4 separate regions of the Homo sapiens genome follow, and regions 1, 2 and 3 are each linked to region 4. The links come from fine-mapping of genetic effects on gene expression. A gene starts in region 4. Each other region holds a variant in brackets. All regions are shown on one strand. Distances are from middle to middle.

Region 1 (8,111 bases), 53 kb before region 4:
TAAAAAAAAGAGCAACTCCTCCCTAACTCATTTTATGAGGCCAGCATCATCCTGACACCAAAACCTGGCAGAGACACAACAAAAATGAAAATTCCAGGCCAATATCCCTGATTAACATCGGTGCTAAAAATCCTCAATAAAATACTGGCAAACTGAATCCAGCAGCAGCACATCAAAAAGCTTATCCACCACGATCAAGTCAGCTTCATCCCTGGGATGCAAGGTTGGTTCAACATAAGCAAATCAATAAACGTAATCCATCACATAAACAGAACCAATGACAAAAACCACATGATTATCTCAATAGATGCAGAAAAGGCCTTTGATAAAATTCAATACCCCTTCATGCTAAAAACTCTCAATAAACTAGGTATTAATGGAACGTATCTCAAAATAATAAAAGCTATTTATGACAAACCCACAGCCAATATCATACTGAATGGGAAAAAGCTGGGAGCATTCCCTTTGAAAACCAGCACAAGACAAGGATGCCCTCTCTCATCACTCCTATTCAACATAGTATTGGAAGTTCGGGCCAGGACAATCAGGCAAGAGAAAGAAATAAACCGTATTCAAATAGGAAGAGAGGAAGTCTAATTGTCTCCATTTGCAGATGACATGATTGTCTATTTAGAAAACTCCCATCGTCCCAGCCGAAAATCTCCTTAAGCTGATAAGCAACTTCAGCAAAGTCTTAGGATACAAAATCAATGTGCAAAAATCACAAGCATTCCTATACATCAATAATAGACAAACACAGAGCCAAATCATGAGTGAACTCCTATTCACAATTGCTACAAAGAGAATAAAATACCTAGGAATACAACTTACAAGGGATGTGAAGGACCTCTTCAAGGAGAACTATAAACGACTGCTCAAGGAAATAAGAGAGGACACAAACATATGGAAAAAGATTCCACGCTCATGGATAGGAAGAATCAATAGCATGAAAATGGCCATACTGCCCAAAGTAATTTATAGATTCAATGCTATCTCCCTCAGGCTACCATTGACTTTCTTCACAGAATTGGAAAAAAGCTACTTTAAATTTCATATGGAACCAAAAAAGAGCCCATACAACGAAGACAATCCTAAGCAAAAAGAACAAAGCTGGAGTCATCACGCTACCTGAATTCAAACTATACTATAAGGCTACAGTAACCAAAACAGCATGGTACTGGTACTAAAACAGATATATAGACCAATGGAACAGAACAGAGGCCTCAGAAATAATGCCTCACATCTACAACCATCTGATTTTTGACAAACCTGACAAAAACAAGCAATGGGGAAAGGATTCCCTATTTAATAAATGGTGCTAGGAAAACTGGCCAGCCATATGCAGAAAACTGAAACGGGACCCCTTTCCTACACCTTATACAAAAATTAACTCAAGATGGATTAAAGACTTAAACCTAAGACCTAAAACCATAAAACCCTAGAAGAAAACCTACACAATAACATTCAGGACATAGGCATGGGCAAAGACTTCATGACTAGAATACCAAAAACAAGGGCAACAAAAGCCAAAATTGACAAATGGGATCTAATTCAACTAAAGAACTTCTGCACAGCAAAAGAAACTATCATAAGGGTGAACAGGCAACCTACAGAATGGGAGAAAATTTTTGCAATCTACTCATCTGACAAAGGGCTAATATCCAGAATCTACAAGGAACTTAAACAAATTTACAAGAAAAAAAAAACCCATCGAAAAGTGGGCAAAGGATATGAACAGATGCTTCTCAAAAGAAGACATTTATGCTGCCAACAAACATATGAAAAAAAGCTCATCGTCACTCGTCATCAGAAAAATGCAAATCAAAACCACAATGAGATACCATCTCACGCCAGTTAGAATGGCGATCATTAAAGTCAGGAAACAACAGGTGCTGGAGAGGATGTGGAGAAATAGGAATGCTTTTACACTGTTGGTGGGAGTGTAAATTAGTTCAACCATTGTGGAAGACAGTGTGGCAATTCCTCAAGGATCTAGAACTACAAATACCATTTGACCCAGCAATCCCATTACTGGGTATACACCCAAAGGATTATAAATCATTCTACTTTAAAGACACATGCGCTCGTATGTTTATTGCAGCACTGTTCACAATAGCAAAGACTTGGAACCAACTCAAGTGCCTATCAATGATAGACTGGATAAAGAAAATGTAGCACATATACACCATGGAATACTATGCAGCCATAAAAAATGAGTTCATGTCCTTTGCAGGGACATGGATGAAGCTGGAAACCATCATTCTCAGCAAACTAACACAGGAACAGAAAACCAAACACCGCATGTTCTCACTCATAAGTAGGAGTTGAACAATGAGAACATATGGGCACAGGGAGGGGAACATCACACACTGGGGCCTTTTGGTGGGTGGGGAGCTAGGGGAGGGAGAGCATTAGGAGAAACACCTAATGTAGATGATGGGTTGATGGGTGCAGCAAACCACCATGGCACGTGTATACCTATGTAACAAACCTGCACCTTCTCCACATGTATCCCAGGACTTAATATACCTAATGCTAGATGACGAGTTAGTGGGTGCAGCGCACCAGCATGGCACATGTATACATATGTAACTAACCTGCACAATGTGCACATGTACCCTAAAACTTAAAGTATAATTAAAAAAAAAAAAATAAATAAATAAATAAAATAAAGTATAATAATAATAAATGAAACTAATCTGAAATTAAAAGTTTACTTTAAAAAAAATTAAAAAAAGAAAAGAAACAAAGATTGGCAAGTTCTTTAAAAGTGAAACATCTACATATCATCTGATCTAGCCAATCCACTCATCAGTATTTGCTCAGGAAAAATAAAAATATATGTCAACAAAAATACTTGCAAAATAATGTGTATAGCAGCTTTATTTCTAATAACCCAAAACTGGAAACAACACAAATGTCCACCAACAGGCAAACAGATAAACAAACTGGTATAGCTATAAAATTAAATACTATTTGGAATAAAAAGAATGCAGTATCATTGTGTGGATGTGGATGTATCTCAAAATAATTATAATGAGAAAAAAAGTCCAACCAAAAAAATAAAAGAGTGTCTATTGTGATGATATTTACATGATTTTATTTATGGAAAATTCTAAAAAATGCTAACTAATACATAGTTACAGAAAGCAGATCAGAGGTTGCCTGGGGAGCGGGGGATGAGGAGGAACAAGAAGTTTGTAGGGATAGGCTCACAAAGAAACAAGAAAATTTTGGGGGGTGATGGACAAGTTTATTATCTTGATTATGCTGATGGTTTCACAGATGTAAAACTATGTCAACATTTACCAAAGTCCACATTTTAAATATGTGCAAAATTTAACAAACTGTACACTTAAATATATCAATTATATCTCAGTAAAGCCGTTTTCAGAAGTTTGTAAGTGAAGCATAACCCCAATAGATATTTAGTTATGATGAATTACTTTCAAATTATTAGAGATATTGAAAGAGAGAGAGA[CAG/C]AGAAAGAGAGAGAAAATTGACAAATCTAGCAAAGCAAAGGAAAAGATACAAAATGGGATGGGGAGAAAGCACAGTAAATGAGACATATAAAATGTTATTTGTAAAATGTAATCGACTATGTAAGTAATCACACCTAACTCCGTCTCAGCCTCTGCTTCCTGGATGACCTTGCTGACACGCCAGGTCTAATCTCTAGATTCTCTAATTTGACAGGTCTAGCGTGGATTTGGAGAATATATATAATTTTTTATATCATTCTAATGTTCAACCATGTTCCAGCCCCATAGTAGAGATTTTCATACAATTATTTTCTGTACAATATAATTTAACTTCTATAAATTATCTTGAAGTCTTTTCTATGATGTCATTTAACATGCCTGTTTTGACATTATCAAGTTAAGAGGTAAGCATAGTACTGTCTTACTTTGTTTTTCAGTAATATTTAAACAGATAGTCTTGAACCTAACTATGAGCCTCAGCTCAACCAGGGTTGGATGAAGAATTAATAAATTTCAAGGACAGTGTAATGATGTCTATTGTGAACATTGCTTGGTAATATTTATATGCAGAAACCTAATGGACACTGCTTTTTGGTCAAGTCAAAATGGCTTGATCAAAATATCATGTGCCAAGTGTCATTAGATTAGCTTTACATCCAAAATAGACTAAAAGTCCCTTTGAGGACAAAATCCATAGTAACTGAAATGTCTAGAGGGAGAAAAATATACTTATAAGACAAAATAGCTGTCTTAAAAATCTCAGATGGTATGATTGAAGAATGAATATATTTTGTTTCAATTTCTATCATGATGAAAAAACTTCTCATGTTTTTTCTGCTATGGAGCAAATAGACTTATGTTTTTAATTAAAAATAATTTCATGATATTAACAATGATTTACATAAACATTGCCAATATTTTGCTCCACAAAAATATGGAGGGGAGGGTCATGCCATCCCATGGCCACTTGCTTATTATGTAGCTCATAGTTTGTAAATAAATACCCCATGTCCTCTATGGTGCATTTTTCGCCACTTATATGGTCAATAGACATTAATTATTCAATAAATATATCACAATAGAATGTACACCATAAAAATACACAATTCCAATGTAGCACATCTGCAAAACTGTTAGGCATCAAGTATCAACACCTCTGTGGAGATATAATGAGTTCAGAAGAAGCTAATGTTCTCACACGTGCATTCACTCTCTTACAAACATGACCAAAAATATAAATCCATTTTTATTAAATAGTATAATTCTTATTATAATCTCACATCATATTTAATCTGGTTGATTAAAAAGAGAAAGTGGCAACTGTAGAAGCAGGAATAGTACAGTTATTAAAATAGAAATTTAGGGAAAGGCACATTTAAACAATGTTGGAGGGAATTTGACATATATATTTGACACAATTTAACATATATATCAATAGTAAAATGCACAAACCCTTTGACCTGACAATTCCACTCAAGAAAGTTATCCTACAGATATACTCAAAAACAAAGAGATATATGCACAAGAAACATTCTATGTGGTATTGTTTATACCACAAACAAAACTTAAAAGAAATAAACAAAACTTAAAAGAATCTAAATATCCATCATTAGGGTTGTTTTTAATTAAATAATGATATAACTATACAATGGAATTTTATATAACCATTAAAAAGAATGAGGTAGCTCTACTTGTCATGATATAAAATGATCTCTAAGACTTATATTATTAGGTTTTCATATGTATAGAACAGTAATGCAGTGTATTGTTCCCACTGGTGCCTTGACAAAGATATGTGCATGTATATGTAAGGGGACACATAAATTGACACATATACCATAGGCATATACACATGTCATATGTACATTAAAATATTCTGAAAGGATACACAAGAAACTGTTCACACTTGCTCCTTCTTCAGTTATTTCTTGAGGAAATTTGGTTTTCATTATTTACTGTCCTGCACAATTTGAATATTTGGTCATGGGCATGTATTTTCTTTGTAATAACATCAGTTCTTCAGAGAACTAGCTGGTAGCAGCTAAGAATCAAAAATTCCAATTATACAAGGGTATGAATGAGAATCCATTAAAATGTCTTCTAAGAACCTTGGAAAACCTAATTTCAATATAAGTCTTCATTCTAGAACTGTAAGAAAATCAGACAGTAATTATAATGTATCTCGTTTGTTGTTGTTTCTTGGTACTAGAGTCCAACAACTTATAAAGTATGGAGGTCTGTGTCAACTTCACTTTGTAATGCCTCAGATGCCTTCACCTTGTTTGTAGTATCATAGAGAGGATTGTTCTTCTCTGTGTAGCTGGCATAGGGCTGCATTTCATCCTAAGAAAGAACTCAAAGTTAAAATCAATTCAAAAAATCATCATAGAGACTATCTGTATTTTTGTAACAGTTGCCCATAGCTTTAGTATTTCTAACAGGTGCTCAAGAGTGCTTATAATTGTGTTTCTGGGCCTATATAAACATAAGAGCAGGATTTGTTCTAACATTTTATCAAAAAGTATTTGTTAACTACATAAGTCTCTGTGTGGAGATAATGGCTCTGTGCAAGTAGGAATGGAGATGAATGAAGTGATATGAGTACTCCAAAGGAGAGCTTTGGAGACTTAGTAAGCTACTTATAATAAGAGATGAAGGAGCAGGATATGTTTTAAGTTTGTGTAAGAGAAAAATAATGATAGTATTGAAAAGGAAAAGTCAGGAATTAGAGATGCTTTCAAATTGGTGACAAGAAACACCAATTCATTTCCTCAAAAGATTACAGTCTAAAGGAGCCAAACATCATATGTGTTAGGATATAGTTCATGAAGTGAAAATGTGGTTCAGAGTGATGATGTATAAATAGTATTTGATAGATAATTAACAAAGTAATCACACATATAAGCACTGCAAGTCAGAACTGTTTTAGTTTTTCAACTGAAACACTAATATTGATACAAACTACAAATTATGTTGCTAGATTTTCAGACTATTGGCTTAAGTTTGCAATTAGTCTTTTTTATCTTATCTTACCTCCTCAACAACTGGAGTAGATTCTGTTTTATTCAATTTATATTTTCTATAAAAATAAAATAAATTGAAGTGAATGGAGGAAACATCATTGTTTAGATCGAAAATGGGAAAATAAGACAGTATACTATTGACAATTGTGTTTAATTTTGATAGAAGCCATAATAAATCAGAAAGAAACTACTAGAAATAAGTGAAGAATACTGCTCGTGGTTAATATCCCCAACTAAGAATATTCCGGATTTTGAAAAAGTGAAATTATGCAATAGAAGCTTGATGCAATTGAATGCATGTAACATCTCCTCTTTGGTGCATGAAGGAATTGTAATTATTTACCCAAATGTGAAAATTAACATGCACTTTCTCTCCCAAGATCCTACCCTAAATGGCCTAATTTTCCATGCTTCTATGCCAAAGCAACCTAGCAAAGTCTCTCTCATCATTCAAAGTAGTCCAAGTCTATCTAACACCTTCAAGATTTGATTATGGGAGATTTGATGTTAACATCCTAATATACCCAATACGGTCAGTTCCATATTTCTGACTCTTTTCTAGCCTAATAAAGCTGAAGAAGAAAAAAACATTCATTAGTCAATACCTGCAGCCATTGACTTTCAACAACCAAATGAATCCCACGATGGTCAAAATAATAATAGTAAGGATGATATATGGAATATATAATTTTGCTGATTTTTTGGCACCTGGAACTATAGACACAAAAATATATGGTTCAAATGTGGTACAATCCAAATAATGTACTATCTTATTATTCAATGTTAAAAAGAAATGAGCTATCAAACCATAAAAAGACATAGAGGAATTTCAAATGTATGTTACTAAGTGAAACATGCCAATCTGGAAATGTTACATATTGTATGATTCCAATTGTAAGACATTACGGAAAAGATAAAACTAGGGGAATAGTCAATAAATTATTGATTATCTGGTGGTGAGGAAGGAGGGAGGAATAGAAAGAGCAAGGAGGATTGTGTAGGACAATAAAACTGTTCCATATAATACTGTACTGGTGGATACATGTCATTACACATTTGTCCAAACCCATGGAATGTACAACACCAAGAATGAACTCTAATGTAAAGTATGGACTTTGGGTGGTAATGTTGTATCAATGGAGGTTCAACAGTTCTAATAAATGTAACACTCTGGTGCAGGTGTAGGTGGGAGAGGTTGGACATGGGCGAAGGCAGGGCTTATATGGGAAATTTCTGTACTTTCCACTCAATTTTGCGGTGAACCTAAAACTGCTCTAAAAATTAATGTCTACTAAAAATAAAGTTATCTATATTTATATCCATATCTATCTATATAGATCATTCAATAATGTCTCACAATACATGAAATTCATATCTGTAGTTTCATTTTCAACACTTCTGCCCCATTAATAGTTTGAGAATTATTAAAATAAAACTGCTTTTTCAATACAGACTCCAGAGTTTTCAGCAAGACATCACCTTATATCAGGGTTTTGTTGCTTTAAAGATTCATTGGTGGTGAATTCCTACCACTCTGTTATAGCAGAGTGTTTCTCCCCTCCAACTAAATGGGCAATTGTAAGGAAGATACTTGGAAAAGTAACC
Region 2 (8,111 bases), 200 kb before region 4:
TTTTTGCAGCCAGAGAGAGCACAGATTTTTAACATCTCCCCTCCAGTTGCACTGACATCATCTGTCTGAGAGACTTCTGTCCAAGTTGGATGGAGAAACAGCTCTAAGACACGTGGCTGATTTAGCAGTCTGTGCTATTCTGCACTCTAGAGCCCTAAGCCCTGTGGGGATTATGAAACAAGGGGGAATCAGAATCACCCTAATGGGGAGGAGAGCTTCAACGTGCCTCCCCAGGGGCTTCTGACCTCCACACTCTAGAAGGATGTGGACCTCTAGTTCATTCCCTGTGGGTAAAATCCCTGCCTCTGGGAAGCATTGTCACTGATGGATGATGTCAGCCCAGGACAAAAGGCAGAGAACCACGAAGGGAGGACAGCCCTTCAGTGGCTCAAGGCCCTGGAGAAGCTGGAAGATGATGATGCAACTTGATGGGTCAGGGGCACTGAATGTCCCTTATTCCAGAAAATTATTCTATTGTCAAAGATCTCTCCACAGCCTGGAATACCAGAAATGCCACTATTTAACTCATTCTTTAGAATTAAGCCCACATTTTCTCTGGAAGACCATGCACTATCAACAGTTACCTTGGAGGGCTCTGGGCTCAATGCCTGTTAGTACCAGAGAGTGTAAAAGATCTAAGCAGTAGTCACTGAAGAACTTGGACATCTGATAATTCTTTGGTAGGTGAAGCAGGAGATGTGTGTCTCAGGCTCCCTGGGGATGATGAATATAGCTCCGGGAGAGATGCGGAGGCTCATGTAAGTGTACCATCTAAATCCAGTCTGGCATCCACATCATACTCCGTTTTATGAGAGGCAAGTCAGTAAAATTTTGTTTCCTCTGTGTATGTCTGTCTCATAAGAGTTCATTAAACTTCAAAGGCAGAAGCCATGCAATTCACCCATTGCCTCACCCACTGGTGAGCTGTTTCTTACTTGGTCATCCTCCCCTTCTAAAAGGTAACGCTCTGGCTCCCAATTGTGCTGAAGCTGCTAGGAAGTGAAATTGACACTTGGATATATGAAGGTTTGTAGCCCCCAGGGATGAGAAGCAGAGAAAGAAACTCTGAATCAGGTGATGAGCAAGCAGCTTCCTGCCTAGTGAAGCAACAATCACGTGATGCTGATGGACTCTAGGCTTTCACACTCTGGTCTCAGACCTGTCTGCTAAGTATTCAAATTTTTGGATGCTAGAGAAGATAGTGAAAAAAGATTTATATTGGCATAGCAATAGATCACCAATTTAAAATATTGTTTATTTTTCATTACTTTTTATTCCATGTAATTTTTTCGGTACAGCAATAAGCTGACATCTAGCAACAGATATTTGTTGATGAGTGAGAAGTCAGTGAAGGACAGGGCTCCTCACTTAGTTCTCAGATCTCACTAAGGCTTGAGACCACTCTCACTTTCCCACATGGCCATTGATACCATAAGGTAAATATTGATTAAAATTAAAGAAATGGGCCAGGCGCAGTGGCTCACACCTGTAATCCTAGCACTTTGGGAGGTGAGGGTGGGCGGATCACGAGGTCAGGAGTTCAAGACCAGTCTGGCCAACATGGTGAAGCCCTGCGTCTACTAAAAATACAAAAAAATTAGCTGGGCGTGGTGGTGGTAGTCCCAGCTACTCAGGAGGCTGAGGCAGGATGATTGTTTGAACTGGGGAGGCAGAGGTTGCAGTGAGCCGAGATGGCACCATTGCACTCCAGCCTGGGCAAAAAGAGCAAAACTCTGTCTCAAAAAAAAAAAAATTAAAGAAATGTTGAAATCTGATACAAACATCTCAGCTGGAGGGTGGTTAAGCTACGGTTGAAGCATTAGTCTGATGTGTGGCAGGATGGGAATCCGAGGGGCCTGAAGCCTGGGCCAACAGCTGGCTCAAGAGAGAGAGAGATCAAGGTCCTGTGAAGACCAGGGTTAGAAAGTGGGTCAGCCTAAGAAACAATGATGCTTACAATGAACCCCTTAGAGAAGGCAGGGACTGATGTTGCAAAGGCAAGGATGATTTAAACAAGGAGCATCTGATGGAAGAGTGGAAGAGACAGGTTGAAAGGTGACAGTGGTGCTGGGTTTAGGGACAGGGATCTGGTGTGCAGGCAGTGGGGGGTGCTGAGATGAGTAAAATAACAAGGAATAAAAGAAGTAAAGGCTTGAGATCTGGGTCTAGAAGGAACTCTGTTACAGTTTCCCCTTACCCATGTTTTCTCCCTTTACAGCATATTCCATCCCCATCTCCTCCTCCCACTCCTGCGTACAGGCAGCAGGGCTCAAGCTAGACCCTATGGCATCCAGAGGAGGGCATCTGCTGGGGGTTTGTCTCTCCAATTTGGTGTCAAATTGGTATTAATGAGTGTCCTTTTCTCTACCTTCTGGAACCATGCCCTGCTGGATTCAAGCCTCTGTGGCCCTCCAAGTGAGGCCCCTAAACCCATCCAAAGGTTTTCCCTGCCCCAGAATAGACAGGCCCAAGAAGAGAAGTTTACCCAATCTTGCCCACCTATCTAAGTCCTGGACCCAATCACTCTGGCCTCTAATCTGTCTCTGACTTTGACCCCCAGCTCTAAAAACTGCGCCAGATTCTTCACTCAAAAACATTTATGGACCGTCTACTATGAAACAGGCATGCTCATCCTTCCTGGAGATACAGTTGTGAACAAGACTCTGTCCCTATGGTCATGGAGACTATTGCCTAGTGAGAGACAGAATTCAGTAAAAAGGCAATTTCAGGAAGATGTGATAAATACTGGGATGGGGAAGTGGGAACACTTAGGAGGGCAGGGGGAGGCAGAGTGGGGCAGAAAAGACTTCCTAGAGGAAGTGAGAGCTAAATCCAGATGCAAAGGACCAGTAGAAGTGAACCAAGCAAAGAAGAGGTCTGTGGGTGTGGGCAGGGCAGTGATTTTGGAGGAAGGAATGGCAAGTTCAATAGCTCAAAGGCTAAAGTGTAGGACAGGTTCAAGGATCTGAAGATAATATGGCTGAACCCAGAGGATCATGGAGATGGGGCTGGAAATGTGATGGCTTCCTAGATCGCTGTGTGAAAAAGTGTGTCCACTGAGCATCCAGGCTTGGAAAGAAAAAAAGAGTCATATCTGCCCTGGATTGTACTATAAATTTCTTGAAAATAAAAACTGTGCTTATTCATCTCTGCATCCCCAGTGCCTTGCAAAGTAGGCACAGTAATCTGTCAATAAACTTTCTTTCAAGGGTTCAATTATTGCATGGGCTGGCTAATAGCTTTTCTCTGCCTACAATTCCATATGATGAATCACTGCAATGCCAGTGTTACGGTTGCATAGTAAGTATTAGAGCAAACGCTGGTCTCAGTCAGGTGGTAGTGGTATGTTAAGAATACACAGACTAAAACAAAGATATTCTACATTCTATACACTCAATACATTCCAAGAGGGATTAAAGATATATCAGGATCCCCCCGCCACCACATAGTACTACACGTGGACACGTTTGATTTATATGTCTCTTTTCTTCTTCAGAAGTTCTTTTTCTACCCCAATTTGAAATGTTTTATAAAAATTTTTTGAGGTTATTGCAGTTTTGTAGCAGTAATATGGTAATGACTCACCTATATTTCACAATAAATTACTGTAAAAAGCAACACCCACAAGCTTGCCAATGAATTCCTCAGTTATCCTCTCTATGACCTATGAAAATAGCAATGTTTTCTTTAATCATCAGCATAGAGATTACTGAAGACTTTGTCTACAATTTTAAAAAACATAATTCAGCACTAAAATAATATAACAGAATTGGATTATCTTAGATTTTAATCTCTAAACACAAATTCCAGATTATGTCAAAACATATAAGTATTCCTGAGTTACTATTAGGGTCATAGAAGAAAACATATTTCTAATAGGTTCTAGGAAAGTGATGAAAATGAGGTAGTATTCCATAAATAGAGGAAAATGTAAATTGGGGTAACAGTAAGGCTTTGGATTTAAGTGACAATTGCTCCTGACCTTCTCAAAGAATGATTACCCACAAGCTCAGGCTACCCTGCTTAAAATTCTGCAAGTCAAGCTGGTTTATTCAGGATACAGCAGGTAGGATGTATCTGAGGAATCTCACTCTGAACTTATTGTGGCTACTGGTTAGGATAGGAATAGGGTGAAAGATGAGGCCTGGCTCATTTGGAGTTAATGGTGAAATATAAGAGGAAAGGGATGGAGTTAATGGTGAAATATAAGAGGAAAAGGATGGAAATATATTAAAAGCTGGTGAAATATAAGAGGAAAGGGATGGATATTCAAGCAAAAGGTCAGCAACACTTTGGTCTTTGCAACCAAGCAATTATCTTTATATAGCACCCCCTTCTTGGGAAAAAGAAACTGTGTTCAAAAGATCAAAATTTTAAATCAGAAGAATTACATGGTTAAGCATGAAATTAGTGTGAAGTCAATGATTAGAAATTCTTCAAGTATATTTTTATTTTACAGTAGCATATCTATTTTAAAAGCTATTTAATTCAGAAATGTTTAGATAAGGGATATGTTGATGGAAACTAATCAAACTTTAAAATTGCTGGTGCAAGCAGATTTATTTTCTTAAATCTTGAATGATTTTGCTGTTAACATGTTCTTTTCAGCAGTCCGGAACAAAATAAGTATATAAATTCTAACTTCAAATAACATAATTATTACTCTTTGAAAGCTAGAAAAACTGAATCAAGAAAACTTTCATGGCTTTTCCCTAGAGCCAGGAAAAGTGGAAGGTTCCCTAACTATGAGAAAGGCCAGCCTGACCTTTTCTGTGAGAAATAGAACCATGCAGATAGTAGTCAGATGAGGCTTCAGCTTCCAAGAGCCCTACCCTGAGTGTCCTATTTTAAATTGAGAACACTCCACCCTGAAACTTCCCATCCCAACCACTTTACTCTGTTTTTTTCCATAGCACTTACTTC[C/T]TTCTAATATGCTATTTACTTTTTATTGTCTGTCTCGGTTCACCAGAATGTAAGCTCTACAGAGGTTAAGGATTTTTTTTGCCAGTTTTGTTCGCTGATGTATCTCACCTTCCTAGAACAATGCCTGGTACATAGTAGATACTGAATTTGTCCTTATGTAATCAAAACTGGGAGACAATAGACTAAAGAAGGAAGTTCAGAGTATTAAGGACAAGTGCTAGTGATTCAAACTAAGTTATGAACAAATAGTGAAATATCTAACAGGGAGGGGCCAACAGTTAAAATTCAGTGAGGACCAGGATACCAAGCTGCTCAGAAGCTTTAAAGTCCAAAGTAAGTCAGCAAAGATTGAAAGTCCAGAAGACATTTAATTCTTTGGCAGACACTTTAGCTACCTACTCACTCTCCACTTCCCACTTTTACTCACCATCTGAAACCTTTATTTTGGTTATAATAACATTGTGCACCACTTCAGATGGGGATAAATGGACTAAGCCAATTATGACCATTCTTTTCCCCGTTTCTCAGCTGCTCAGTCCAGGCCAGTGAGAACTAAATAGAAGTCAACTGGGCACATTCTGGAAAATAGAAATTAGTTTTGCTGGTAAATGGAGACATAAATGATTGGCATAGCCTTTCCCTCTTCTTCCTACCTTGCGCATGGACATTAGAGCTGGAGCTGTCCCAGCCACCTCAGGTGCTCAGGGAAAGACCAAGAGAATTCTCTTTATTTAATTCACTGTACAGGTTATTTACCTGCTTGTTCCAAAATTTATTTTGGACCCTTACCTATAAATAAAATTTCCAAACTCCCTTGCCAACTGCCTCCAGCTAGATATGGTCATTGGCAGCACTAGGAGGAAATTGAGGAATAAGAGGAATGGAGAAGCCAGGGGATTTATCTTCCCTTCCTCTGCTTCCAGCAGTATCTCCAGTGTTGACATGGTCTTCTCCATAATCCCAGCCAATGCCAATGGGCCCTTTTCCATGGTCCCAGCTCCCACCAAGCAGCCATCTTACACATGTTACACATCCAGCTCCAGGTGACTCTGACTTCCAAGCTCTGGTACACACTATCTCCTTTCTTTGTCCCTTCAGTCCTGTGGGTGGTAGTGGCTTCCTGCTGTTACTAATCTTTAAGCTGCTAATCTTTAAGAAGCCCTATTTGGCTTCTCAGCTCTTCCAGTCTTTTTGTACCTCGTGCCCTGTATTAAATTATTTCTATTGGACACCTGGCACGAACTGAGCTTTCCTCTCTGGATCCTGATTTATACTACATCGTATTTGGCTTTTTCATTGCTTGACACAAACCACTCTTCAAATGGACTCAAACCTTAAGAAATAATTACAAATTCCTTATCTTGTGGACTGGTAGATTTTGTAAAGTCTATCCCCTTTTACAGGGTACTCATGGCCTCAGTGGGTAAGGAGAGAGTAAAGACAGCAAGTTGGTGTGGTTATATACGTGTGGATACATATACACACACATACATTTACATATATATACATATATAATCACATGGTTATATATGTCTTTACTATCTCCTTACCCACTGTGGTCATGAGCACCCTCTAAAAGCCATGGCTGCTCCCTGCCTGGGAGATTCCAAAATTTGACTCTTCCATGTTATACTTAGAACATATTTTCTTATTTTATCTCTGACTCGCTCCATCCCAATGGCTCTATACCCTGACTCACCCTTTCTGCCAAGCTCCTTAAGATAGATAACATATTTAGATAGCCTATCATCTCACCCCAAGATTTCCCCTCCTCAACTTCTCCCTTGGATATACTCACCTTCAGCCATAAAGCAAATGATGTACTATTCTACAGTTCACCAGTAGTCTCTTGGAACCAAAAACAGCCTGGACCTAAAAGCATCTGGCCTTCTACCCCTGCAAAGAAAGATCCAAACAGTATGTATGTGTGTATGTGTGTGCACATGTATTGCAGGATGAATTTAAAATTTCCTTCTTCTCATGGGTGCAGGACAGGATAGACACTTTGGAGGATAAACAAATTTATTATTTCAACCAATATATATTTAGCTTTTGCTTTGTGCTTATATGCAAGGGATACAGCAATGAACAAAGCAGATAAATCTCTGCCCTCTGGCCTCCTAAAGCTGATTCTGACTCTCCAGAATGGCAAAGAGAGCCATTTACTGCCAGTAGGTCCTGTTATTAAGGTTATTAAGGTCATGTTTCCATAAGAGATAGGGTCAAAGTTTTGGTTTCAAAAGGAATACCCTTTCTCCTTATAAGATTAGATTGTGTTGTCCTCCCAAAAAATGACTGCTCATTCTAGCAACGTGTGGCTTGCTCCCTGGGAAAATCAGCAAGAAATAAACCAGAATGCTAAGTGATAAGTAGACCAAAATAAAGTGATGTCAACAGTTTTACCTTCTCTCATTGGCTGGAATTCAAACCCTCCTCATCTACAGTCAGCAATTTGGGGGCTTAGAACATGATACTGCAAAGTATGGTGCCTTGGCATGCTAAGTACTTTGAACTGAAGGAGATTGGAAGGACCTCAGAAGCAAGGTCTCTCTGACCTTCCCCCGCCCTCTGGTCTTCCACTTCCCTTTCTTCCCTGAAGGGAGTCAGAGAAACCAGAATTCCTCTTCCCCATGGCAGATCATAAAAACTAGAACTCCACTCGCCCAAAGCAAGCTATGAAAACTAGAAAGGTCACTCTCTCTCTTCATCCTGCAAGACCCTCACTCCAGAGGGTCCAGCCCCAGGGAAAGGAATGCTACAGAGAGAGGCCAGAAAGAATCTGAGCAGACAGCCCTTGCTGGGTTTATCCCCTCAGTCTATCAACATTAGATCATACCTTTTTGCCTAGGCACGTTTCTACACAGCTGTGCTTTCTTCATCAAACTTAAGTGTAAAAACGGACACTTTTCCCTGGGTCTTTTGGTCTTCATTTCTGAAAGTTCCCATGTGACATAAGAATTTGTATTATGCTTTTTGCTTGTTAAACTGTCTTTTGCTACAAGAATGTTGGTGGTGACCCTTATGATGGGTAAGGAAAGGCATCACACCTTTCTGCCCTGATGCAATACCTGAGTGGGAGTCTTCATCAGCATTCAGTCCAGGACTGAGGCACCTAAAATGTGAAGGATGTGTGAAGGGAAAATAAATCTAGGGAAACCAAATTCACTAAGCCAAAGTGAAAAGTCAAG
Region 3 (8,111 bases), 39 kb before region 4:
CCCAGGGCCTGGGAAACAGTCCTGTGCCTCCTCCCCAACAAACATGGCCACAGACATGTCCCCAGGCCTCCCCAGCAGCCCCATGCCCTCACTCAAGGCCTGAGAAATAGCCCTGTGAGCCCTCCATGTGGCAGATACACCCCCATGACTAATCAGCAGCCCACACCAACACTCAGGATCTGGGAAACTGTCAAGGGTGTCGCTCCCAGAGGACACATCCCCAGACCTACATATCAGTTCCATACCCACAACTGGGGCCTGAGAAACAGCAGGGCAGATCCACTCCCAGTGGACATCCCCCCCAGGCCAGCCCAGCAGTCACATCCACGGCTGAGAAACAGCCCCACAAGCTCACTGTTGGCAAATATAACCCCAGGCCTACCAAGTGGCCCCGTGCCTGTAACCAGAGCCTAAGAAACAACCCAGTGGATCCACCACTAGTGGAAACTCAGCCAGGCCAGCTGAGTGTCTGCATGATTATGTCCTGGGCCTGAGAAACAGCCAGCGGGCCCCTACTGTGAACAACCCTAGACTGACAGATTGTGCATTCACCCCCAGGAACTGAGAAACAGCACAGCAGGCATGCCCCTGGTGGACATACCTACAGACCAGCTGAGCAGGTGGGGACCTGTACCCAGGGCCTAAGAAATAATCTGGTGGGCCCACTCTCAGCAGACATGCCCCCAGACTGGCCGAGTGGCTGCCCACCCACTCCAGAACCTAAGAAACAGCCCAGTGGGTCCACCCCTAGCAGACATGCCCTGAGGATAGCCAAACAACCATGTGCTTGTGCCCAGGGCCAGAGTAAGAGCCCCATAGTCCCAAACCCAGCAAGCCAGATGCCAAGTTGAGTAACCCACCATGTGCACACAAGCACCCATAACCTGAAAAGCAGGCTGGCAAACCAACTCCCAGCAAAGCTGTGCCACTGCTGCCACAAACTCACCACCTAGGTCATAGGGACACTTGCAAACATCACTAGAATGGATTACATATAAATAAGCTTTTTCTTAAGAAGCCTACACCATAAAATTAGAAGAGGCGACAATTGCACCAGATATGTAGGTATCAACATAGAAACACATCAAACATGAAAAAGCAAGAAAATATGATAGACCCCCCAAATCAACCCAGTAATTCTCCAGTAACATAACCAATTATAAGGCAATATATGAAATGCCAGAAGAAGAATTCAAAATAATAATCTTAAGGAAACTCAATGAGATAAAAGAGAATACAGATAAACAATTCAATAAAATCAGGAAAACAATTTGTGATTTAAATGAAAAATTCAACAAAAAGATAGCTATCATAAAAAAAGAGATTTTAGAGCTGAAGAAGTCAATGAATGAAATAAAAAATACGATTTTTCAACAACAGCATAGAAAACGTAGAGGAAAGGATTTCTGAACTTGAAGACAAGTCTTTTGAAATAATACATGAGGATTTTAAAAACAAAAAGAAAAAGAATTTTAAAAAAATAAAGTTTACAGGATTTAGGAGACATCAGTAAGCAAAAAACATTCACATTATAAAAATTCTGGAAGGAGAAAAGAAAGAAAAAGGCACAGAAAACATATTTAATAAAATAATAGCAGAAAACTTTCCAAGTTTTGGGAGAGAGAGAGAGATTCAGATCCAAGAAGTTCAAAATTTCCCAAATAGATTTAACCCAAATACATCCTCTCTAAGGAATGTTATAGTCAAATTATCAAAAGGCAAAGACAAAGGAAGAATGATAAAAACACGCAAGAGAAAAGCATCAAGCCAAATATAAGGGAATCCCCCTTATACTGATAGCAGATTTCTCATCAGAAACCTTATGGGCCAAGAGAAAATGGAGTGATACATTCAAAGTACTGAAAGAAAATAACTGTCAGTGAATATTATATCCAGAAAAACTATCCTTCAGAAATAAAGGCAAGACTGTCACCAAGCAGAAAAAAAAAATCAATAAAATGACAGATGTAAGTTCTCATCTATCAAATAATCTTGAATGTAAATGGATTCAATTTCCCAATTAAAAGATATAGACTGGCCAAGTGGATTTAAAAATATAAGACCCAGCTGGGCATGGTGGCTCACGCCTGTAATCCTAGCACTTTGGGAGGCCAAGGAGGGTGCATTACCTGAAGTCAAGAGTTTGAGACTAGCCCGGCCAACATGATGAAACCCCATCCCTACTAAAAATACAAAAATTAGCTGGACATGGTGGCGGGCACCTGTAATCCCAGCTACTCAGGAGGCTGAGGCAGGAGAATTGCTTGAACCGGGGAAGCAGAGGTTGCAGTGAACCAAGATCATGCCATTGCACTCCAGCCTGGGTGACAAGAGCGAAACTCCATCTCAAAAAACCAACTATATGCCACCTACAGGAAACTCATCTCACCTGTAAAGACACACATAAACTGAAAGTGGAGTGGAAAAAAGACATGCAAACAGAATCCAAATACAAGCAGGAGTAGCTATACTTACATTAGATAAAACAGACTTTAAGACAAAGGCTATATAAAAAAGAACATTATGTAAAAATAAAGGAATTTATTCAGCAAGACGACATAACAATTGGAAATATATATGGACCCAATGTTGGAGCACCCAGATATATAAAGCTAATATTATTAAAGCTAAAGGGAGAGATAAACCTCAAAGCAATAATAGGTGGGGACTTCAACACCCTACTTTCAGCATTAGGCAGATGATCTAGACAGAAAATCAAGAAACATTGGATCTAAACCACACCATAAATCAAACAGACCTAACAGACCTTTACAGAACATTTTATATAACAGCTGCAAAATACACATTATTTTCACCAGCACATGGAACATTCTCCAGAATTGACAATATGTTAGGTCACAAAACAAGTCTCAAATAATTTTTAAAAATTACAATCATATCATCTTATGTGACCACAATGGAATAAAATTAGAAATCAATAACAAGAGGAACATTTGAAACTATACAAATACATGAAAGTTAAACAGCATGTTCCTGAATGACAAATGAGTAAAGAAAGAAATTAAGAAGTTTAAGAATTTCTTGAAACAAATGAAAATAGAAACACAAAATACCAAAACCTAAGGGATACAGCAAAAGCAGCATTAAGAGGCAAAT[C/A]CATAGCAATAAATCCCTACATCAAAAAAGTAGTAATATTTCAAATTAACATCCTAACAGCACATATTAAGGAAGAAAACCAGGAATAAACTGAACCCAAAATTAGTAGGAGGAATAAAGATCAGAGCAGAACTCAATGAAACTGAACCTAAAAAGAAATGCAAAAAACCAACAACAAAAAAGTTTTGTTTTTTCTGTTTGCAATATTTTAACTTCAGGGGTATATAGGTAGGATGTGCAGGTTTATTAGGTAAATGTATGCCATGGTGATTTGCTGCACAGATCATTCCATCACCGAGGTATTAAGCCCAGCATCCATCAGCTATTCTTTCTGATGCTCTCCCTCCTCCCACTCCCCACCCTCTGACAGGCTCCAGTGTGTGTTTCCACCCTCCATATGTCCATGTGTTCTTATCATTCAGCTCCCACTTATAAGTGAGAAAATGCACTGTTTGGTTTTCTGTTTCTGCATTAGTTTGCTGAGGATAATCTAATCACCTCCACCTGCATCCATGTCCCTGCAAAGGACATGAACTCATCTATACATGGCTGCATAATATTTCATGGTATATATGTACCACATTTTCTTTATTCAGTCTATCACTGATGGGCATTTAGGTTGACTTCATGTCTTTGCTATTGTGAATAGTGCTGCAATGAACATACACGTGCATGTATCCTTAAAATGGAATTATTTATATTCCTTTGGGTATATACCCAGTAATCAGATTGCCGAGTCAAACAGTATTTCTGCCTCTATGTCTTTGATGAATCACCACATTGTCTTCCACAATGGTTGCACTAATTTACACTCCCACCAACAGTGTAAAAGTGTTCCTTTTTCTCCATAACCTCGCTAGCATCTGTTGTTTCTGGACTTTTTAGTAATCACCATTCTGACTGGTGTGAGATAGTATCTCATTGTAGTTTTGATTTGCATTTCTCTAATGATCAGTGATGTTGAGCTTTTTTTCATATGTTTCTTGGTTGCATGTATGTCTTCTTTTGAGAATTATCTATTCATGTTCCTTACCCACTTTTTAATGGGGTTCTTTTTTTCTTATACATTTGTTTAAGTTCCTTGTAGATGCTGGACATTAGGCCTTTGTTAGATGAATAGATTATAAAACTTTTCTCCCATTCTGTAGGTTGTCTGTTTACTCTGTTGATAGTTTCTTTGGCTGTGCAGAAGCTCTTTAGTTTAATCAGATCCCATTTGTCAATTTTTGTTTTTGTTGAAGTTGCTTTTGGCATCTTTGTCATGAAATCATGAAATCTTTGCCTGAGCCTATGTCCTGAATGATATTGTCTTGATTTTCTTCTAGGGTTTTTAGAGTTTGGGGTTTTACGTTTAAGTCTTTAATCCATCTTGAGTTGATTTTTGTACATGATGTAAGGAAGGTGTTTTACTCTGCTCTCATGCTGCTAATAAAGACATACCCAAGACTGGATAATTTATAAAAGAAAGAGGTTTAATTGACTCATAGTTCAGCATGGCTTGGGAGGCCTCAGAAAATTTACAATCACGACAGAAGGGGAAGCAGACATGTCCTTTTTCACATGGCAGCAGCATGGAGAAGTGCCAAGCAAAAGGAGGAAAAGCCCCTTATAAAACCGTCAAATCTCATGAGAATTCACTCACTATCATGAGAACAGCATGAGAGTAACTGCCCCCCATGATTAAATTACCTCCCAGCAGGTCCCTCCCATGACACATGGAGATTATAGAAACTACATTTCAAGATGAGATTTGGGTGGGGACACAGCCAAACCATATCAGAAGGGGTCCACTTTCAATTTTCTTCATATGGCTAGCCAGCTGTCCCAGCACCATTTATTAAATAGGGAATCCTTTCCCCATTGCTTGTTTCTGTCAGGTTTGTCAAAGATAAGATAGTTGTAGGTGTGCGGTGTTATTTCTGGGTTCTCTATTCTGTTCCATTGGTCTATGTGTCTGTTCTCGTACAACTACCATGCTGTTTTGATTACTGTAGCCCTATAGTATAGTTTGAAGTCAGGTAGCATGATGCTTCCAGCTTTGTTCTTTTTGCTGAGAATTGCCTTTGCTATTTGGGTTATGTTTTGGTTCCATATGAATTTTAAAACTGTTTTTTCTAATTCTGTGAACAATGTCAATTGTAGCTTAATGGGAATAGCACTGAATCTATAAACTATTTTGGGCAGTATGGTCATTTTCACAATATTGATTCTTCCTATCCATGAGCATGGACTGTTTTTCCATTTGTTTGTGTCATCTCTGATTTCTTTGAGCAGCAGTTTATAGTTTTTCTTAAAGAGGTCCTTCACTTCCCTTGTTAGTTGTTTTCCTAGGTATTTTATTCTTTTGTGGCAATTGTGAATGGGCGTTCATTTATGATTTGGCTCTTGTCTTGTCTGTTGTTGGTGTATAGGAATACTAGCAATTTTTGCACAATGATTTTGGATCCTGAAACTTTGCAGAAGTTACTTATCAGCTTAAGAAGCTTTTGGGCTGAGATGATGGGGTTTTCTAGATATAGAATCATGTTATCTGCAAACAAAGATAACTTGAGTTCCTCTCCTCCTATTTGAATTTTCTTTGTTTCTTTCTCTTGCATGATTACCCTGGCCACAACTTCCAATACCATGTTAAATAGAAGTGGTGAGAGAGGGCATCCTTGTCTTGTGCCAGTTTTCAAGGGGAATGCTTCTAGTTTTTGCCCATTCAGTATGATATGAGCTGTGGGTTTGTAAAAAGATTAACATAATTGACAAGCCATTAGCTAGATGAATAAAGAAAAAAAGAGAAAAAACCAAATTAATAAAATCAGAAACAAAAAGGAGACATAATAACAGAGACTACATAAATACAAAAGACCATTAGAAACTATTATGAACAACTACACATGAATAAATTCAAAAGATTAGAGAAAACTGAAAAATTCCCGGATACAGACAACCTAACAACTTTAAACCAACAAGAAATGGAAAACCTCAGTCCAATAATGAGTAATGAGATTGAATTAGTAATGAAAAGTCTCCCAACAAAGAAAAGTCCAGGAACAAATGGCTTCACAGCTGAATTCTACCAAACTTTTAAAGAACTAATACCAGTCCTTGATACACAGATGAAATACTTCAAACTATTCCAAAAAATTGAATGTAAAACTCATTTGAATGTCATCGAATGTCAAAACTCATTTGACAAGCCCAGCATGATTGTGATACAAAAACCAGATAAGACACAGCAAAAAAGAAAAGCACAAGCCAATACTACTAATAAACATATATATAAAATACTAGCAAATGAATTCAACAGAACATCAAAAACATCAGGCACCATAATCAAGTGAGATTCACCTCAGATATGCAAGGATGGTTCAACATATGCAAATCGATATTTGTGATACATTGCATCAACAAAATGAAGAACAAAAACTAGGTGATTATTTTAATATCATATGATCAGAAAAAGCATTTTATAAAATTCAACATCCCTTCATCACTAAAAACTTTCAATAAATTAGGTACAGAAGAAAGTACTTCAACACAATAAAGGCCATCTATAGGCCATGTAGCTAATATTATACTAAATGGGGAAAAGCTTTCAGCTTTTAAGAATTAGAAGAAGAATTAGAAGAAAAAGTGCCTACTCTCACCCTTGTTATTCAAGATAGTACTGGAAGTCTGGCCCAGAGAAATTAGGCAAGAAAAATAAATAAGTAAAGTACATCCAATTTAGAAAGGAGGAAGTCAAATTGTCCATGTTTCCAGATAAAATTATCTTATATAGAGAAACCCTAAAGACTGCACCAAAAAACTGTTAACACTGATAAACAAATTCAATAAAGTTGCAGCATACAAAATCAATAGACAAAACTTAGTAGCATTTCTATACACAAACAACAAACCAGATGAAAAGGAAATCATGAAAGCAATCCCATTTACAATAGCTACAAAAATATATAAATGAATGAATAAAATATCTACGAATGAATTTAACCAAGGAGATGAAAGATCTCTGCAAGTAAAGCCATACAACACTGCAGAAAGAAATTTAAGAAGACACAAAAAATAGAAAGACATCCCATATTCATGGACTAGAATAACTAATATTGTTAAAATGCCCATACTACCCAAAGTAGTCTACAGAATAAATGTAATTACTATCAAGATACCAATGAAGTGTCATTTCATTTAACAAAAATAGAAAAAAAATCCTGAAATTTACATGGAACCACAAAAGACCCGAAACAGCCAAAGCCCATACTGAGCAAAAAACAAACAAACCAAAAAAAAAAAAAAAACAAGCTGCGGCATCACACTAACAGACTTCAAAATATACCATAAAGCTGTACTAATCAAAACAGCATGGTACTGGCATAAAAACCGACACATAGAAAAATGGAACAGCATAGAGAACCCAGAAATTAGTCCACATATATACAGTCAACTGCTTTGACAAAGATGTCAAGAACATACATTTGGGAAAGGACACCTTCTTTAATAAATGGCGCTGGGTAAACTGAATATTCATATGCAGAAGAATGAAACTAGACCTCCTGCCTCTCACCCCATACAAAAATCAACTCAAAATTCATTGAAGACCTAAATATAAGACCAGAAACTATAAAACTGCTAGAAGAAAACACCGATGAAATACTTCAGGACATTGATCTGAGAAATAATTTTAAGAATAAGACCTCAATAGCATAGGTAACTAAAGCAAAAATAAACACATGGGATTATATAAAACTAAAAACCTTCTGCACAGCAAAACAATAAACAGAATGAATAAACTTACAGAATGGGATAAAATATTTGTAAAATATTCATCCAACAAAAGAGTAATATCCAGATATACAAGGAATTCAAATATCTCCACAATAACAGAAAAACTAACTTAAAAATGGGTAATTGATACAGATATTTCTGAACAGAAGACATACATATGGTTAACAAATACATGAAAAAGTGCTCAACATCACTAATCATCAAGGAAATGTCAATTAAAA
Region 4 (8,111 bases):
CTGTAGGAATTTTCCTCCTACTTGTCCTCCCTTCCTATACTGAATTTAATATCTTCCTCCACAACGAAACTCCCTTCTCAGTCACATATATACCTCAGCGGCATCACAGAACTTTTTTCAAATGAGAACCCCAGGGCAGAAGCTCTTGACTCATGTTTCAAAATAAATATTTTACCTAGTGCCACCGCCACTCAATGGGACACTGTTACCACATTATTCTCCAAAAAATCCTACTTAATTATAAATTTTCCTGTTCACCAAAGAACAGGTGGTTCCTCATTGTCTACTGACTAATACCCAGGTTCTTTAATTTAGCTATTAAGGACCCCCAAAATCCAGCCTTATTTCCTACTATTATTTAACACACAACCTCTGTTCCTGCAAGCTACAGCTCTTTCTCTCTCTGAAGCACCTTGCATTTGCACATGCTACACATCCCATCCTTCCAATTCCTTTCTCTGCATTTCCCCATTTATCCAAACCTGTCATTCAAAGCCTAGCTCAAGACCCATCTCCATAAAATCCTCCACAACTCCAACCCACTGTAATTTCTCCCTCCTTTAGATTTGTACTAGTTTCATATACAATTTCAAGATTTACTGATTTTAAATGTTCACCAATTGTTTCATCTTACCTTTGTCTTTCTAATTTAGATTACTAATAACTTTTAGGCACTATTCTACACACACACACAGACATTAATAAGGACTTTTAATTAATTTATTAATTGCTTAAGCATGAACATTTAGAGAAAAACACACCTATAAATTATTATAACATGTAAATTCACAAATATGCAAACTAGAAAAGGAAGATAGGACTAAAGTTATTAATAAGGACAAAACCCTTCTTTTGCACAATTGTTTTGAATCTTTTTCCACTGTTTGCAAATCTGCCAAAGCTACCTTAGAGCCCTGTCTTGATTTTTATCTCCTCTTCTTGTTACTGCCTGTCCTCTAGTGGAAGACAACAATAAATGAATAAAAATTAGCCCAAAGAAGGAAAGAAGTGAAGGGTTCCTTTTTAGTAACTCATAATCACAAAATCAGTAACTTTTATAAAAGATGGAATAATTTTAATTGGAACACCAAAATATAATTTGAACACACACACAAAAATCTAGAAGACAATAGGGCTAAAAAAAAGGAGGAAGAAGTGGCACAGGGTACGGGGAGTGTCCGGGAAGGGGACCAGGTACAAGGCTGGGAATATAGCTCTGATGTACACAATTTAGGTTGTTTTTATTTTTCCCCTTAGGTTTTTTCTGGATAAATCTTGTTTACTAACTGCCAAGCTGCTTGAAGTTATAAGCAAATAAGTAGACAAAAAGAAAATAGGGAAACCAAATGAATACTATGTTTTACATTTAAGTCATTAGCTCCCTTGTTCCTTTGTGAATTTACCTTGTACAAAGCGAGTTCTTTCTGTTTGGCAGTATTAATAACATAGCAGTTTTAGCAATAAAGACATAAAGTCATATTTCCCCAAGTGGTATGCTTCTCATTATTCTAAATCATGTCATGGTTAACCTATCACACCAAATCACTACATGTAAAGTAATATGCTTTTTTAAATCCTGATTTTAAACATTTAATAACTTTACAATAACATAAGCATAGACTTCATAGATCTGCTATATGTAGTCTTTCCTAGTTGTGTTCAGAAATAGTTTTAAAATTTAAACCTTTCAACCTTTAAAATTGAAAATTACAAATTATGTTTTAATCATTTTTTTTCCTTTTCCCAGGAGTAACAGTGCAATTTGACATAAACAGCTCCTTGCCTATCTGGCTGCCCCAGCCAAGCTGGGTCCTACACAAGTTGCTATAAGAGCTTTCTACAACAAGATCTGAACTACTGAAAGATTCAGATCACTTGACTTTTTAGGTGAGTAACAGTCTATTAAGGCTAAAACTAAGTATTGGCTTGACTTTTTTCACTGATGCTCTTCAGTGAAAAGCACAATGGTTAAATAATGAGGAAAATTGCCCACTCAAATGTTTAGTGGTGCTTACTGATGTATATCATTACTGATTGTGATTCTGGCACATACTAGTCATATCTAACCTTGGCCAAATCATTTCACCTCTCTACGCCTCCATTTCTACCTTTGTAAAATGGAGAGGTGTCTTCCATGTCTACTTCACTGGGTTGCTGTGCAGATCAAAGGGAAAAAAGCATGTGAAAATTCTCAATAGAAAGGTGCAGTCAAAGAGTGTAGTTATTTTGCATGTGTTCACTAGTAAGATTAACATGTGGAAAGAAGATTTTTTGTGGAAGATAAGCAGCATTTTAAAGTCATTCAGAAATGAGGAAAAATACCTTTTCTTCTTTCAATTATCAAATTATAACATTTAAAACCAACTACACTCTTCCCTTGCAGCTGCTCTGTCTACCAAAAGTGAAACCTGAAAACTCCCTCCCACACCAACTCCTACCAACCTTCTACAGTGAAACCAGGACACCCCCACAGTGGCCCAAGTTCTCTATAACTTCTATAGGAACCTAGATGTTGAAGAGTCTGTTCTCTAACTCGTAGTGTCTCTTACAGCCCACACATCTTGAAGATAAATACAGACATACATCACAGACGCACCACTGTAACTGTAGGCATATTATATTTTTGAAGTGCCTAATCATCGAAAGTGACAGAAAGCAATAAACTGTCCTAATCTATGCCACTGGCAATGTGGACCTAAATGAGTTAGCGTTCTTATCTTAAAAAAAAAAATTAAGAGAGAAGAGGCTGGGTGCAGTGGCTCATGCCTGTAATCCCAATGCTTTGGGAGTCTGAGGTGGGAGAATTGCTTGAAGACAGGAGCTCAAGACCAGCATGGACAATATAGCAAGACTCTATCTCTACCAAAAATTTTAAAAATTAGCCAAGCATAGTGGCGCATATCTGTAGTCCTAGACACTCAGGAGGCTGAGTGGGAGGACTGCTTGAGACCTGGAGTTACAGGCTGCAGTGAGCTACGATTGCACCACTGCACTCCAGCCTGGGCAACAGAGCAAGACCCTGTCTCAAAAAAGGGGGTTGGGGAAGAGAATAAGATAAAGAGAACCTAACTGACTTTGATTGCTGCTAGTATGTATTTGATTTATCCTGCCTTGTTCAAAAAACAGGAGGAAATAAGGAAATGGACAGTAAGACAAATTATAGAGATCTGTATATTGTAGTAGGATACAAAGTACAACAAGCAAGACACCGGAAAAAAGGATAATAAAGTAAACTAGATATGGGAGTAACCCATATTTAGCAACCCCCTATATTTATTATTGCAATTGATTTGTATTGCCCCAGAAGAAAGACAAAAAATAAACTCAGGAAGAGCTGAGACCAGGTTTCTCACTGTTCTCCCAAAGAGAATTCAAACTTACCGGCCACTAAGAAGATAGTCAAAATCAACAGTAGCCCTAGGTTAGCAGTTCTCCAAGGGCAGAGCATTTCTGTTTTCTCTTTTTCTGCCCTTCACTCAGTACTTTTCCTCCACACAGGTACAGAAGGAACTGTGCGCATGGTGAGACCCTCTCTGGTCAACTTCTCAGTACAGGATCCTCTTACCCCATCAACAGTGGGGCACTCCCTTCCTTCTAGCCCCTTCCTTCACGTCTATGTGGTTTAGCCTGGTTAGTAACTTGGACGAACAGAAGCTTTTCTCTGGAACTTGACACAGCAATAGATTTCCTGTATGAAGCCCTGAAGCAAAGACGGAGGAAGCAGATTGATTGAATTATCTCTCAGCTCATTGGTTCTCCTCTCACTTCTGCTGTACACAGACAAACTTTACAGTAAGGCATTGAACGTGTCCAAGATAAACAGATTTGTCTAAACTTGCACCAAAAAGTAAAACAGAATATTGATCTACTTTGGCCCATCCTTGTAAATTTCCCAATTATGATGACTTTTAGAGGCTTTCTCCAGGTTGAAGAGCTTTACGGCCTTAGTATTTGAGTCTGGAATACAATATGTTTTCTTGAAAATTATTGTGTGAAATTCCTGTCTATAATGGGAGTCAACACACAACCCTGTAAACATCATATGTGTATTAGTTTCCTATTGCTACTGTAAGAAATTACCACAAACTCAGTGGCTTAACACAACACAACATTTATTATCTTACAGTTCTGGTGATCAGAAGTCTGAAATGGATCTTAGGGGACTAAAATCAAGGTGTTGGAAGGGCTGCACTCCATCTGGAGGCTCGGGCAGAATTTGCTCCCTGCCTTTTCCAGCGATTTGAGAATGCCTGCATTTCTTGGCTTGCAGCTACATCATTCGGACCTCTGGTCCACTGTCACATCTTCTCTGACTGTGACCCTTATGCCTCCCTTTTATAAAGACCTTGTGATTATTTTTGGTCCACCCAAATAATCCAACATGATCTAATTTCAAGATCTTAATTTAATCACATCTGCAAAGTCCTTTTTGCCACACAAGGTAACATTCACAGGTTTCGGTAATTCGGACATAGGTATCTACCTTGTTGGGGGTGAGGGCATTCTGTTTATCAGAACTCAGTACTTATTGCCATTCAGTTTCACCTTTGGAAAATTAGACTGATCATTTTAACCAAATTACAAATAATCACCCATCTCTTAGTTGCCACACATCTGGAATTCAGACTCCCCCTAACCAAAAAAAAAAAACAACAACAACAACAAAAAAACCTCTTCCTTACTGTTGCTAGTTACTATGTTACTATGCTTTTAAGTTATGTCTGAGAGAGGGAAAAATCTTCTATGTGCTGAGAATTTTCTGCCCCAAGGCAAAACTGTACAGGAAGGGGAAGAAAACATTGCAAACAGGAAAAAGATTAAACAGCATGCATTTTTTTTCTCAGTTAGCAGTTTCATCTTCCTTCTTGCCAAACATTATAAATATTTCCCCCCTTCCCCTTCTCAAGCTTTTTTTTCCAGTTAATTAATTTGATGAAGACAGTGAAACCAGATCCTTGAGGGCATGGAACACTTAAGGGTATGAGCTGTGACAATGGGAAGACCAAAACAAAAATGTCTTCTCTTCTGTCTAATGTTTCACCAGGTGTCGGAAAATTAGTGAGAATACATCATTTAAAATACAGATAATATTCTGGTTTTCCACTACATAGAAGTGAAAGTTGGCCGGGAGTAGTGGCTCATGTCTGTAATCTTAGGACACTGGGAGGCCGAGGCGGGCAGATTGCCTGAGCTCAGGAGTTCGAGACCAGCCTGGGCAACATGACAAAACTCCAAACTCCATCTCTACTTAAAAAAAAAAAAAAAAATTAGCCAGGTGTGATGGCACTCATCTGTAGTCCCAGCTACTTGGGAGGCTGAGGCATGAGAATCGCTTGAACCCAGGAGGCAGAGGTTGCAGTGAGCAGAGAGAAGTTAAAGTTAAAATTCACACTCGCTTAGGATACAGATAGACATAGGGTTAAGTCTCTGTTGTGCAATTACTAGTCCAGTGATACTGGGAAAGTTTCTTACTCAAGTCTGTATCTGTTTATATTATATTGACATTAGCTTTTTCTCATGTCATCAAAAATTCTTGGAGATCATTTATTTTAATATCTGCTCAATGACATAGCCAAAACTAAACCACAGAAGGGCTAAATGGCCTGTGGCCTCAAAACAACTTATTGGCACGGCTGGGAATAAAATGTGTTATATTTCGTAGCCCTGTGTTCTTTTCACTCAACTCCTCTACTTTGAAATTTCAGGCAACAACTTTCATAGACACACTCCAATGCACTCACCTGAGGTCAGACCACAATCTGCAATCAGCAGTTTAAGAATCAAGTGATGGGTATCAAAAACCATAAAATTCACTAAATAGATTTGGCAGGATGACAGTTTCTCTCCCTGGTCCCTCATCCTCTCCACCCCCAAATCACATGCCTGTAACCTCTCAACTCCCACCTTCTACCTTTTATGGACCATGAATGTTTAAAACAATAAAGGGACTAAAAGTTTGTTAACATAATCATCCACTAAAGACATGCCATGAAAGTCAGTATAATAAGAGAAAGATGTGTCTGGTAAATACACCTCTCTAAAAAATCTAAAGGCCCCAAATTCTCCCTGGTTGCGGCCCTTGGGCACAGGACCCAGGAAGCAAAGCAAAAGAGTGAAAAAGGATCAAGAAACAGGTGTCATTCAAACCAGAAACCCAAACCTTTTACTCTACCAGTTTTCCAATTCTCCTTCAATAATACCAGTTAAGAATCATAGCATAAGAGAAACAAACAGGACAATGTAATGCCAGTTAATGTTGTAGCCAAAACAAAAAGACAGAGAAACTTTAGTAAATTAGAACTACTTTAGGCCATAATGCCCCCAAACCAGCATGGCTGGTTTACTCAATTTATCAATTGCAATAAACTGAAAATTGATGTAATAACTATAAATGTTGTTGAAGTAAACTTCTTCCAATCAGGTGTATATCTTTCTCTCCAATGTCAGATTCAGACTTAGCCACACTGAAACCATTTAAGATGAAGTGTTGCAGCCTTCCTCTTGGGATTCCTCCCCATTATGTAGAAGATTTGCATGGCTCTTGAATACTTACTGCAAAGATTCTATGGACTTTTATTCCTGACTTCTCGTTCCCGGGACCCTTTGCTCCCCAGTACCATTGCCGACTCATTCACCTCTTATATTTGAGTCTTGACTGCCGAGAACTTCAGCACCTGCCTGCCCTTCCTACCATAGCTGAATTTTCTGGATGTGCATTCTTGCAAAATGGGCCAATAACTACTTGCCTTGTCACTGTTACTTTTGGTGAACTCTCTGGCTTAGATATCTGGCCTGACTTACCCTTCTATACACTTGCATGTGTGCACACACAAACATAACACACACACACACGCTCACACAAATATGCTAGCGAAACACTTAGTCCTAATTCCCTCAATCTACTCTGTCCTACTGCTAGCCAAGTGGTAACATGCCAATTTCACAGAGGTAAAAAGAACAATACCGAATAGTCTAAAGAATTTCAAGGGACTCAAACTCTACAGCACTCCACTCTTGTCTTTACTTCCTCTCTGCTCCCTTGTACAATAACTACAGATCTGAATCTAATGAATTACCACAGAAATGCTATAATTCAACATACAGTTGCATAAAAAGACTGCTTTCCTGGGCATATTCCATTTTCTATTTTCCAATTTACCTCTCTGTAACCTTCATTGACCCATGCTCTCAAGACTCATCTGAAATCCTGTATCTTCCTCCATGGACAATCATTAAATAGACTAAACAGTAACTTAAAAGAGCCTCAAAAAATGCATACTTCTATTTTTATACCTACTATTATATTGATTTTTCTTGAAAATTTTTACTCCTAATATATGGTTGATCTACGTCAATGTATAAAAAGTCTTCTTAAAAAGTTAGAAAAAATATATCATATTGGAATTAATGATTATTTTTTATTATAATTTTACAGATTATACAAAAAGGAAAATTGAGAAATAGATGTTTGAAAATCAAATGTGTGCAGTATCAAAATAAGCAAAATCAGAGTAGAGAAATTAGTAATCACATTTTATATTTAGCTAAATATCAACTGTAAATCTCACTGGTCAGATCCATAGCAAGTATTTGTCAAGCCCTAAGCTTAACACCCTGATCTTGTTCTAAGCAGTTTATAAATATTACCTAATTTAATTATCTCAACAATCCTATATAGTAAATACCACTTACCATTGAGGAAACTCAAAGCAGAGAGGTTATGTAAATTGTCAAAAGCCACACAGCTGATAAGTGATAGAAACAGGATTCAAGCCCAAGAAATCTCACTCCAAAGTCTACTTCTTAAACTATGTGGCTAATTAGTCTCTGCTTTACTATCTACTTTTTTGAAGGTGGTAACTCTGTTTTGTCTCCAATACATCTCCCAGGTTCCTAACCCCTACTGACTCTATTTATGTACTAATTCACTCTTTCTTCCTTACCTGCTCAAAATTGGTCTGTTTTGTTTAAATAAATAAGCAAACCCTGTGCTGTTTCTAATCATCTATTTGCATTAAGATTACTCTCTGCTGCCCCCTGGAGATAATTTGGTGAAATCAATGCTAAGATTTTTGTAAATTTATCTAGCAAATTCAAAAATAGCTTCACAT

The links. PIP is the estimated chance that this variant, and not a neighbour inherited with it, causes the effect.
Region 1: its variant is fine-mapped to the expression of CD200R1 in lung (TOPMed, PIP 0.94).
Region 2: its variant is fine-mapped to the expression of CD200R1 in nasal epithelium (TOPMed, PIP above 0.99).
Region 3: its variant is fine-mapped to the expression of CD200R1 in whole blood (INTERVAL, PIP 0.98).

What each region holds. Positions count from the first base shown.
Region 1 is chr3:112,917,974-112,926,084 of GRCh38, forward strand. CD200R1 (CD200 receptor 1) reads right to left here. Exons shown (of 8, transcript NM_138806.4): 6 at 7,112-7,220; 7 at 6,517-6,562; 8 at 3,232-5,826. The coding sequence ends at 5,704. Among named protein-coding and RNA genes, the nearest start is that of CD200R1, 53 kb to the right of the region's middle. The variant CAG/C (reference allele first, on the strand shown) is at 3,482.
Region 2 is chr3:112,775,187-112,783,297 of GRCh38, forward strand. No RefSeq gene overlaps it. Among named protein-coding and RNA genes, the nearest start is that of CD200R1L-AS1, 23 kb to the right of the region's middle. The variant C/T (reference allele first, on the strand shown) is at 4,924.
Region 3 is chr3:112,932,483-112,940,593 of GRCh38, forward strand. The region is part of intron 2 of CD200R1 (CD200 receptor 1); the gene reads right to left. Among named protein-coding and RNA genes, the nearest start is that of CD200R1, 39 kb to the right of the region's middle. RefSeq lists an enhancer at 1,156-1,325. The variant C/A (reference allele first, on the strand shown) is at 3,118.
Region 4 is chr3:112,971,410-112,979,520 of GRCh38, forward strand. CD200R1 (CD200 receptor 1) reads right to left here and starts at 3,694. Exons shown (of 8, transcript NM_138806.4): 1 at 3,382-3,694. The coding sequence starts at 3,448.